3 linked regions of the Homo sapiens genome follow. The protein of the gene in region 3 purifies or fractionates together with the protein of the main gene of each other region. This does not show direct contact. Each region holds a gene or a part of one and is shown on either strand. Other genes may lie near its edges.

Region 1 (3,649 bases), on a different chromosome or scaffold from region 3:
CTCATATCATCCCCAGTGGACATCACTGTAAAACGCAGTCGCCTTTTCCACTGCAGTCTGATGAACATTTTAAATGGGATATACCTTTTTATTTCTTAAACTGACTAGGCAGTGCTACGACGCTGCCTCCCAGGTCAGAGTCTGTGACCTCCTCGGGGACCTAGTGGGAAAAGCTGGGCCTCACTGCTCCTGGGGCCCCTCCCCTCCCCTCCCTGCACCCTCAGTGTCCACCCTGGGGCCTGGATGGGGCCTGAGCACAGCCCCGCCCCTGGGCTCAGAGGCCTCCTCTGCTTGCTTCAGGGTTAGCAGCCACGTTCTGGAGGGCTGGGGGTACCAGAAATCCGACCTCCGGACCAATGGGGTACTCATGAAATACTCTACGTCCAGGCAAAGAAAGAACGTGGAGGATTGAGTTTCCAGGAACATGTAAAGAAACTTCTTATAAAACCAGAATTTGTTTTCATAGTTCCCTAAGGTTAAGGAAAGTATAATGACAAGAAAAACTGTTTGGAAAGAGTTGTAAATTTAGTTGTCTGGGTAGACAAGGAACTTAAATCGGGTGTAAGCTTCTATCCTCAAAACACTCTGTGAGGCCAGGAGCAGTGGCTCACGCCTATAATCCCAGCACTTTGGGAGGCTGAGGCAGGCAAATCACTTGAGGTCAGGAGTTCGAGATCAGCCTAGGCCACATGGCGAAACCCCGCCTCTACCAAAAATACAAAAATTAGCCAGGCGTGGTGGCACACACCTGTAGTCCTAGCTCCCGGGGAGGCTGAGGTAGGAGGCTCACTTACAGCCTGGGAGGTCAAGGCTGCAGTGAGCCATGATTGCACCACTGCACTCCAGCCTGGGCGACAGCAGGAGACCCTGTCTCCAAAAACAAACCCACAAAAAAACAAAACAGGTGACACGTTCTCTATGGTCACTACACTTTGTCACTTTCCATCTGTTAGTTGATAACCTGCATGATCCAAACCGATTTAACTCACTTTTGCCTCCTTCACAAAGGAAAACCTGGTATTTTCACGGCCAAAGGATTCAATGATTCAGCAGCACTGTCAAGATATAAGCTGTTGGCTGGGCATGGTGGCTCATGCCTGTAATGCTAGCACTTTGGAAGGCCGAGGTGGGTGGATCACCTGAGGTCAGGAGTTCAAGACCAGCCTGGCCAACATGGCAAAACCCTGTCTCTACTAAAAATACAAAAATTATTAGCTGAGTGTGGTGGCACACGCCTGGAGTCCCAGCTACTCGGGAGGCTGAGGCAGGAGAATTGCTTGAATGAACTCAGGGGCTGGAGGTTGCAGTGAGCTGAGATCATGCCACTGCACTCCAGCCTGGGTGAAAGAGTGAAACTCTGTCTCAAAAAATAAAAACAAAAAGCAACAAAGATGTAAGCTGTTGACAGCAGTAATCCACACACTGTTGTACAAAACCTAGAGGTGCTTTCACCTTTGCTCGCTTCTGCGCTCTTAGAGGCCCACGGTTATACAAGACCATGCAGAAATAACATATGGGCCGGGCGCGGTGGCTCACGCCTGTCATCCCAGCACTTTGGGAGGCCGAAGTGCGTGGATCACGAGGTCAGGAGTTCGAGACCAGTCTGACCAACATGGTAAAACCCAGTCTCTACAAAAATACAAAAATTAGCCAGGCATGATGGCACCCAGCTACTCAGGAGGCTGAGGCAGGAGAATCGCTTGAACCTGGGAGGCGGAGGTTGCAGTGAGCTGAGAACAGACCATTGCACACTCCAGCCTGGGCAACTGAGACTCTGTCTTAAAAAAAAAAAAAAAACCCAAAAAACAACGTATGAACATTAAGACCATGAGCGTATGCAGAAATTCACAGCCTTTTAGTAACTTCTCAAATGTGTAGAGAGCCCATTTAAAAGCAGGACTTCAACTTCGCAAAGTGCTTTCCATCGCCTCACTTTCACTTTATAATAACTATTTTATATTGAGAAAAGATAGGCATGGCCGGGTGCGGTAGCTCACACCTGTAATCCCAGCACTTTGGGAGGCTGAGGCAGGTGGATCACTTGAGGTCAGGAGTTCAAGACCAATCTGGCCAACATGGTGAAACCGTCTCTACTAAAAATACAAAAAGGAGCCGGGCATGGTGGTGCACGCCTGTAATCCCAGCTACTCAAGAGGATGAGGCATGAGAATCGCTTGAGCCTGGGAGGCGGAGGCTGCAGTGAGCCAAGATCAAGCCACTGCACACTCCAGCCTGGGCGACAGAGTGGGAATTTGTCTCAAAAAAAAAGCCAGGGAGAAAGAATTCAAGGACATTTCAGTGTCTAGAGAGCCGGAGGAGTGAATCCCGCCTCTCCCACTCAGTGTAGACACTTCAGGCTGCCAGACTGAGTACCCAGGCCCAGTGCCCCACATCCCAGCCAGTTTCCCCTACACATTTTCACACAACGAGAGGCAAAATGCTTTCAGTCTGTGCACACCAAGACCACGCCGATGACTACTGTCCAAGTGAACGTAACAATCTGGGCTGGTGAAATGGGACGTTCCATTCGGGGGGAGCTGAGGGAAGGTATTTACCAGAAGGCCCAGCCCCAGCTGCCAGCGTGGGGCAGAAACACTCAGGGTGACTGTCCCCGGGACCCTTTCAGACAGAGGCCTGAATGGCACGTAGCACCATCCTCTACAGTCCACGAGAACACAGGACTGTTAATACCACCCGTATTTGTAAGTGAAAACTACGTGTATTTCAAAAGCCGTTCAATGCCTGAAAGTGAACCGAAAGCAAAGTACAAACCCAGACATCCTCTTGTTGATGTTAAACTGTTCACAGATGTCAGAGGCCAGCACTGTGAGCTGGGGCCCAACGATGCTGTCCAGTCTTCGGCAAAAATCCAACGTTGGGTGGACAGAGGCTGGCAAGTCATGACAAAAAATACCAGTAAGATTCATTTTACTGTGCGACACTGAACAACAGTATTCAAACGAAAACTTCACTGGTCTGGGAAAACAAACAATGAATGCTCAGGCCCCCTTCTGCTCCTCAAATAGAAGAGAAACAGAAGATAGAAAACCGGTTACATTTCAGATGAAAAAAGGGCGAAGACCTATCTCACCGTGAAAAGCTGACCGAGGCACACCCTGTAGGGTGGTAAACGGTTGCCTACCCCAGAAAGACCTCAGAAGGTCGTATGTTTATTTAACAAACATTACGTAGCACTCATGGGCCAGGTGCTTCACAGACATGACCTCATTCGATCCTCAGAACCCCCCCGAGAGAGGTACCACTGCTGTCTCCAGCTCGCAGTCGGTGGGACACAGAAAGATGCCCACACTCTACTGCTGACTAGCGGGAAAACTAGGACTTAAAAAATATGAGCACTGGCTAGTTAAGGAGACAGGGGGGTCCCAGATGGGGAACAGGGCTCCTCTCTATGCCTCTATATTGCTTATGACAACACATTTATCATTTAATGGGCTGGGTGTGGGGGCTCACGCCCGAAATCCCAGCACTTTGGGAGGCTAAGATGGGTGGATCGCTTGAGCCCAGGAGTTTGACACCAGCCCGGGCAACATAGTGAGACCCTGTCTAAACAAACAACCACAAAAACATTAGCTGGGTCCGGCGGTGTGTACTGGCAGTCCCAGCGACTTAGGAGGCCAAGGTGGGAAGA
Region 2 (3,649 bases), on a different chromosome or scaffold from region 3:
ATTATCTTAATTTCTTCTTTTAATACCATGCCTCGGGGTGTACCTACCAGATGAGCTGATCGTTATAGAGAAAAGCAGTGTATTTGACTATATTCAGGCTTTCCTCCATTCTATTAATAAAGGACTGGATTTTCAAATAAGTCATTTTATCCAACGGGAAGAAGCTGATTCCACCAAAAATGTCAAGTAGGTCACATGACTGCAAATGTAGCGTTTGCAAATACTGTGGGAAAAAAAATAAGGCATAAAATTTACTAATAGTACACTGAATATAATGCTCCTTGATAACTGAAAATAATCTTATGTCAGACTCACATTTATGGTACAATTACATACTAGCAAACAGCGCAACAATGAGGCCGTGGTGAAGACATGGGTAACTGAGTGCCAACTCAGTCTCAGTACCAATTCCAAGATACAAAGTTCAAACATATCTACTTAATGTTTATTCAGTATTGTGTTTTACTGCTTTAAATTTATTTTTTTGTGACAGAGTCTTGCTCTGTCATCCAGGCTGGAGTGCAGTGGTGCGATCTCAGCTCACTGCAAGCTCCGCCTTCCAGGTTCACACCATTCTCCTGCCTCAGCCTCCTGAGCAGCTGGGACTACAGGCGCCTGCCACCATGCCCAGCTATTTTTTTCCATTTTTAGTAGAGATGGGGTTTCACCATGTTAGCCAGGATGGTCTCAATCTCCTGACTCGTGATCTGCCTGCCTCGGCCTCCCAAAGTGCTGGGATTAGAGGTGTGAGCCACCACGCCTGGCCAAAAATTTTTTTTTTTTTTTTTGGTATAGACAGAGTCTTGCTATGTTGCCTAGGCTGGTCTTGAACTTCTGGCCTCCGTGATTCTCGTGTCTAGGCGTCCCAAAGCGCTGGGAATACAGGCATGAGCCACTGTGCCCAGCTAGCACTTTCAAGTTTTTAATTCCTGGCCAGGCACAGCGGCTCGCGCCTGTAATCCCAGCCCTTTGGGAGGCCAAGGCGGGCACATCACTTGAGGTCAGGAGTTTGAGACCAGCCTCGCCAACATGACAAAACCCCGTCTCTAATAAAATTACAACATTAGCCGGGCGTGGTAGCCTGTAATCCCAACTATTCAGGAGGCTGAGACAGGAGAATCACTTGAACTTGGGAGACTAAGGTTGCAGTGAGCCAAGATCACACCATTGCACTCTAGCCTGGGTGACAAGAGTAAGATTCTGTCTCAAAAAAAAAAAAAAAAAAAAATTAACTCCCTGCCTTAATGCTCTTCAAATTAGACTAACCTAATGAGGGATCTATCCATTAATACTACAGAGAGTGCCATCTTTATTTCCCCCCCCGAGATGGAGTCTTGGTCTGTCACCCAGGCTGGAGTGCAGCGGTGTGATCTCGGCTCACTGCAACCTCGCCTCCGGGGTTCAAGCGATTCTCCTGCCTCAGCCTCCAGAATAGCTGGGATTACAGGCGTGCGCCACCACGCCCAGCTAGTTTTTTGGTATTTTTTAGTAGAGATGAGGTTTCACCATGTTGGCCAGGCTGGTCTCGAACTCATGACCTCAAGATCTGCCCGCATCGGCCTCCCAAAGTGGTGGGATCACAGGCGTAAGCCACCACACCCAGCCAAGAGTGCCATCTTATACTAAAATCATGTCTAAATGATATGTACTCAGGACAACAGTTCTATCCATATGTTGATGGGTAAGAGAGAAATGAGGACAAGAACAGAAACCAGGAGATAATATGCGAGTGGATAACTGTGGTCATTAAAATGACAAAACAAAGAAAAGTAATTCAGAGAAACAAAAAAATTCAAAAATAGCTATGAAAGCTGTTTTAGAAAGTCGAATTCAAAAATAGATACAGAAGGTATTTTCAGAAGAAAATAAATTGAGAATTGTTGCTTCGAGATAAACTAGGCTGGGCGAGTTGGCTCATGCCTTTAACCCCAGCACTTTGGGAGGCCAAGGAGGGAAGATCGCTTGAAACCAGCCTGGGCAAAACAACCAAGACAAGACCCTGTCTCTTTGTTTCCTTTTAAAAAAAAGATAAACTGAGCTTGACAAGGTAGGGTGAAACATGCAAAATTCAATTACAACGAAAGAGGACAGCACTTGGAACAAATCTCCCCAATCGCTAATCTGACAAAGTCTGTCAAGGCCAGTAACTCTTACCTACATCAAGACGGTTCACGCCCGTTTAGTGAACAGAACCAATCCCTGAGATTGTGCAACTCCAATAATTAAGTTTTCCTTATCAACTAATCTATCACACAAAAGATGGCTGCTGAGTAAGCCCAGAAGGACAGATGCAGGTAAAACACAGGGAGGCCAAACGATGTCTCCAGGACCCTTTAAGAGCCCCGGGCAAACGCAGGAAGCTCTGCCTTACACCACAGCTGGAGGGAAGGTTCCAGAGCACAAGCCTCATGCGTTTCCTCGCTGCTCCAGTTTTGCGACGGTCTGTCTCAGGCTCTTTGCCACTTTCAAGTTCTGGGTTTTTTGTATATAAGAAACAAACTTGTCTGTCTATATTTCTCTAAAAACCTGCTGAATGCTTACTAAAGTTATAAATGAAATTCAAAATACTTACCCGATGGAAGAATTTCTCTAATCTTTCTTTCAGAAGCTTGACGCCTCCGTCTTCCATGGCTTTCAGAAATGTACCATTAAAAAGCTAGTGAGGTAAAAGATTGCAGGAAAAAAAATCAGTTTCCTATGCTCACTTTTTCAGTATAACAAGTTCTTTTTTTCCTTTAGATTATTAATTCAGCTCATTAAATCTCCCAGTTCTTTCCAACAGAGAATATTTACATGAGAAAACTTGAGTTAAAAATGTAAGTTACAAAAAATACTGTTAAGTGATGCTGTCTTATTTATGAAACCACCTAATTGCTCTAGGCATCTTTCAAAAATTTCAACTTACCCTGAAGTTTCAATTTACATACATAATATCACCCACATTTCTGTTTTTTTATTTTTCAGTGTTCTGTTAATAAATGGAATCACCAAACTTTTTATCCTTTTTTTTTTTTTTTTTGAGATGGAATCTCGCTCTGTTGCCCAGGGTAGAGTGCAGTGGTGCAATCACAGTTCACTGCAGCCTCGACCTCCAAGGCGCGAGCGATCCTCCCACCTCAGCCTCCCAGGTAGCTGGGACTACAGGCATGCACCATGATACCTGGCTAACTTTTATAAAAATTTTTTGTAGAGATGGGTTCTTGCTATATTGCCCAGACTGGTCCTGAACTCCTGGGCTCAAGCAATCCTCCCACCTTAGCCTCCCAGAATGCTGAAATTACAGGTGTGATCCACTGTGCCCTGCCTCACTGAAACTTTTAAATCATAAAATTATCTGCATTCTGTACATTCCTTGAGCACATAGACACACTTTTTCATCAATGGGGACACATTCCTACTATAAGGCTGAGAAAAGAGAAGGGAGTTCAATACTTACTGAATAAATGTAGGCATAAACCTCACTACCTGTTTCAAAGGCCTCATTATTTTCTTCTCTAAGACAAATACAGAGTCACTTTGCAGTCATTTACAGATTTCTCTTTAAACAACCCTGGAGCCTAGAGATAGGGGTAAGTGGCTGGACTCTGAGTTGAGAAAGAACGCCACGCTTACCTTGTACATGCTGTAGCACTGCCGCAGCACCGAGCTA
Region 3 (3,937 bases):
GTGAGCCGAGAACGCACCATTGCACTCCGGCCTGGGCAAGAAGAGCGAAACTGTCTAAAAAAAAAAAAAAAGAGAAATCTCAAGCACTGGTCTTAGGAGCAGTTTAGGGAGGGTTAGAATCTTGTAGCCTCCAGCTACATGACTCCTAAACCATAATTTCTAATCTTGTGGCTAATGTTAGTCCTACAAAGGCAATCTAGTCCCCAGGCAAGAAGGAGGTCTGCTTTGGGAAAGGGCTGTCTTTGTTTAAACCGTAAACTATACATATAGGTTTCTCCCAAAGTTAGTTCAGCCTTTGCCAAGGAATGAGCAAGGACAGCTTGGAGGTTAGAAGCAAGATGGAGTCAGTTAAGTTGATCTCTTTCACTGTCTCAGTCATAATTTTGCAAAGGCTGTTTCAAGCTGAGATCGCACCACTGCACTCCAACCTGGGTGACAGAGCGAGACTCTGTCTCAAAAAAATAAAAATAAAAATAAAAATAAACTCATAATAATCTTTGAAGTGGGTACTACTATCAAATATTAGTTCCATCTCACAGAGGAGGAAACTGAGGTTTAGAAAGTCTGATCAACTCGCCCAAGTCCACCTTTGATGGAGAAAGCTGACCCACTGAAGCCCCCAACATTTTCCAACTGGACACTTGGAAATGTTGGGGGAACATTCTAGTTTGCCAAGGAGCTGAAATCATCCGGTCTTTAAAGACCCTCCCATGCCCCCGTTTGTGGTTAACTCCTTCATCCCTGCTCCAGGGAGTGGCCTCCACCTCTCCATTTTGAAGGAGAATGATGTCTGTGGCCACCAAGGTCAGAAGCCAAAGGACAGAGCTTTTCTCTGATGCCCAGGAGCCTTGGCAGGAAGAGTGCTTGGAGAGTTGAGAGTCAGAGACTGGGGAAAGCTGGGTAGTCAGGAGCTTCCAGAAGGGTAGGAAGAATGCGAGGTTCCCCAGGTTCTGGGCCCTGCTCGGCTTCCAACTGGCTATGTGATTTTGGGCAAGTGCCTTCTCTTCTCTGGGCCTCAGTTTCCCTCAAAATGGGAGGATTCTTCTAGGTCTAATAATCTCTTCCCTTTCCCCACCTCCCCTTATCTCTCCTACACAAACTGCTCCCCACTGCCCCACCCAGACTGGCTCTGATATTCCAGAAGCCTTTAACTACGGTTTGAAAGTCCCAGGTGGAAGTTGCCGCCCATCCCTGAGGTTCCTCCTGAGCTCTGGGCCCAGGGCTTTAGGTCCTGCTAGGGTATGTGGCCTTGGCAGGTTGGAGAGATCAGAGGGGAGGAAGGCCCAGTGCCTCTGAGACAGGCCTCAGGGAGGCCTGCATTGTGATGACCTGATCCACTCTATGACATCATCCTCTCTTCCACCCTCTCTTCTCCCTGGTCAACCGCTCTGCAAACAACCATCAATCTGATCCCACAGGCCTGAGAAAGTCTGCTCTCCAGTACCTGCTGCTGATCTGTTTCAGCCGACAAGAGGCACCATGAAATTGGAATTCACGGAGAAAAACTACAATAGCTTCGTGCTGCAGAACCTGAACAGACAGAGGAAACGCAAAGAGTACTGGGACATGGCCCTGAGTGTGGACAACCACGTCTTCTTTGCACATCGCAATGTGCTGGCTGCTGTCTCCCCACTGGTGAGGAGCCTCATCTCCAGCAATGACATGAAGACCGCTGATGAGCTTTTCATCACCATTGACACCAGTTACCTGAGCCCGGTCACAGTGGACCAGCTTCTGGACTACTTCTATAGCGGCAAGGTGGTGATCTCCGAGCAAAATGTGGAGGAGCTGCTTCGTGGGGCTCAGTATTTCAACACACCACGCCTTCGAGTTCACTGTAACGACTTCCTTATTAAGTCCATCTGCCGTGCCAACTGCTTGCGCTACCTCTTCTTGGCTGAGCTGTTTGAGCTCAAAGAGGTATCAGACGTAGCTTACTCTGGCATTCGGGACAACTTCCACTACTGGGCCAGTCCTGAGGGCTCCATGCACTTCATGCGCTGTCCACCTGTTATCTTTGGCCGCCTGCTCCGTGATGAAAACCTTCACGTGCTCAATGAAGACCAGGCGCTCAGCGCACTCATCAATTGGGTGTACTTCCGGAAGGAGGATCGGGAGAAGTATTTCAAGAAGTTCTTCAATTACATCAATCTCAATGCTGTCTCCAATAAGACGCTGGTGTTTGCCAGCAACAAGCTGGTGGGCATGGAGAACACCTCATCCCATACAACCCTGATTGAGAGTGTCCTGATGGACCGCAAGCAGGAGCGGCCATGCAGCCTGCTGGTCTACCAGCGGAAAGGGGCCCTGCTTGATTCCGTGGTCATCCTCGGTGGCCAGAAGGCCCACGGCCAGTTCAATGATGGAGTGTTTGCTTATATCATCCAGGAGAACCTGTGGATGAAGCTCTCAGACATGCCCTATCGGGCAGCAGCACTTAGTGCCACCTCTGCTGGTCGCTACATCTACATCTCTGGTGGCACCACTGAGCAGATTTCAGGGCTGAAGACAGCCTGGCGGTATGACATGGATGACAACTCCTGGACCAAGTTGCCTGACCTGCCCATCGGGCTTGTCTTCCACACCATGGTGACCTGTGGGGGGACAGTGTACTCAGTGGGCGGGAGCATTGCCCCAAGGCGGTATGTCTCCAACATCTATCGCTATGATGAGCGGAAGGAAGTCTGGTGCCTGGCAGGAAAGATGAGCATCCCCATGGATGGCACCGCCGTGATCACTAAAGGAGACAGGCATCTGTACATTGTCACTGGACGGTGCTTGGTGAAAGGTTATATCTCCCGGGTCGGGGTAGTGGACTGCTTTGACACCAGCACTGGGGACGTGGTCCAGTGTATCACCTTCCCCATTGAGTTCAACCATCGGCCCCTGCTCTCTTTCCAACAGGACAACATCCTCTGCGTGCACAGCCACCGGCAGAGTGTGGAAATCAATCTGCAGAAGGTGAAGGCAAGCAAGACGACCACCTCAGTGCCTGTCTTGCCCAACAGCTGCCCCTTGGATGTGTCCCATGCTATATGCTCCATTGGAGACAGCAAGGTGTTTGTATGTGGGGGTGTCACCACTGCCAGCGATGTCCAGACAAAGGACTACACCATCAATCCAAATGCCTTCTTGCTGGACCAAAAGACAGGCAAGTGGAAGACCCTGGCTCCTCCACCAGAGGCACTGGACTGTCCTGCCTGCTGTCTAGCCAAGCTACCTTGCAAGATTCTTCAAAGGATTTAAACATTTTAAGTGGGAGAATAAGTAAATGCATTATTATTCACGATTTAATGAGAGAAAGAGAGGAAGATGGCCTGTTGTTTCCTTCTTAGTGTTCCAGTCCATGCTTGGCCCTGAAGGTGGAGATCCTAGGGGAGGGCTGCTCCCAGTGGGTGGAAACTCAGGGCCACTATGTCATTGGAGGTATCCAACAGGGCCTGGAAAGGAACCCCTGGTGGGTGGAATTGAGGCCCCTCCCAGGCACTGGCCAAGGCGATGTCTGTCCCCTATTCTGTACCCCTGTGATCACCTCTCAGGCATCTGCTAGATTGGCAGGTAAACATCCACTCAGAGCTGTGAAGCATCAAGCTCCTCCAGCACCTGCTTCCCTCCGGTCTTTCACAAAAGCAGGGGAGGACCCGTCCCAGGTCTGAGAGAGGAATCTCATGGCCAGGAAGGAGAAGGTGACCTGGGTAAGACTCAGAAAAGAAGGCAGAAGGAACAGGGGAGGCAAGGTTACTTAGCTTCTGTATTTGCCCATGCAGCTACGGTAGTTTGTGTCTCATTTGTGGGAAAGCTGGAGGTTCCTTACAATTGTTTCTACTAAGCCAAGTACATTGAGAACTTTCTCCAGGAATATGAGTCTGAGGGACTGGGGATAAAAGAGAGGCCAGTAAAGGGAAAAGAAAGAAACATATCCTGGTCGGGCACAGTG

Evidence for each region.
Region 1: the proteins of CCIN (region 3) and CCZ1B purify together in Homo sapiens (co-immunoprecipitation; one large-scale study listed by IntAct). This does not show direct contact.
Region 2: the proteins of CCIN (region 3) and CCZ1 purify together in Homo sapiens (affinity purification with mass spectrometry, with the first as the bait; one large-scale study listed by BioGRID). This does not show direct contact.

The regions. Positions count from the first base shown.
Region 1 is NC_000007.14:6,802,166-6,805,814, forward strand, and holds part of CCZ1B (vacuolar fusion protein CCZ1 homolog B), read right to left. Parts: intron 2,891-3,649; coding exon 2,773-2,890; intron 1-2,772.
Region 2 is NC_000007.14:5,901,668-5,905,316, reverse strand, and holds part of CCZ1 (vacuolar fusion protein CCZ1 homolog), read right to left. Parts: coding exon 3,613-3,649; intron 2,657-3,612; coding exon 2,573-2,656; intron 224-2,572; coding exon 48-223; intron 1-47. UniProt on the Homo sapiens protein: Acts in concert with MON1A, as a guanine exchange factor (GEF) for RAB7, promotes the exchange of GDP to GTP, converting it from an inactive GDP-bound form into an active GTP-bound form.
Region 3 is NC_000009.12:36,168,024-36,171,960, forward strand, and holds CCIN (calicin), read left to right. Parts: upstream 1-1,364; 5' UTR 1,365-1,479; coding exon 1,480-3,246; 3' UTR 3,247-3,311; downstream 3,312-3,937. UniProt on the Homo sapiens protein: Required for both nuclear and acrosomal shaping during spermiogenesis.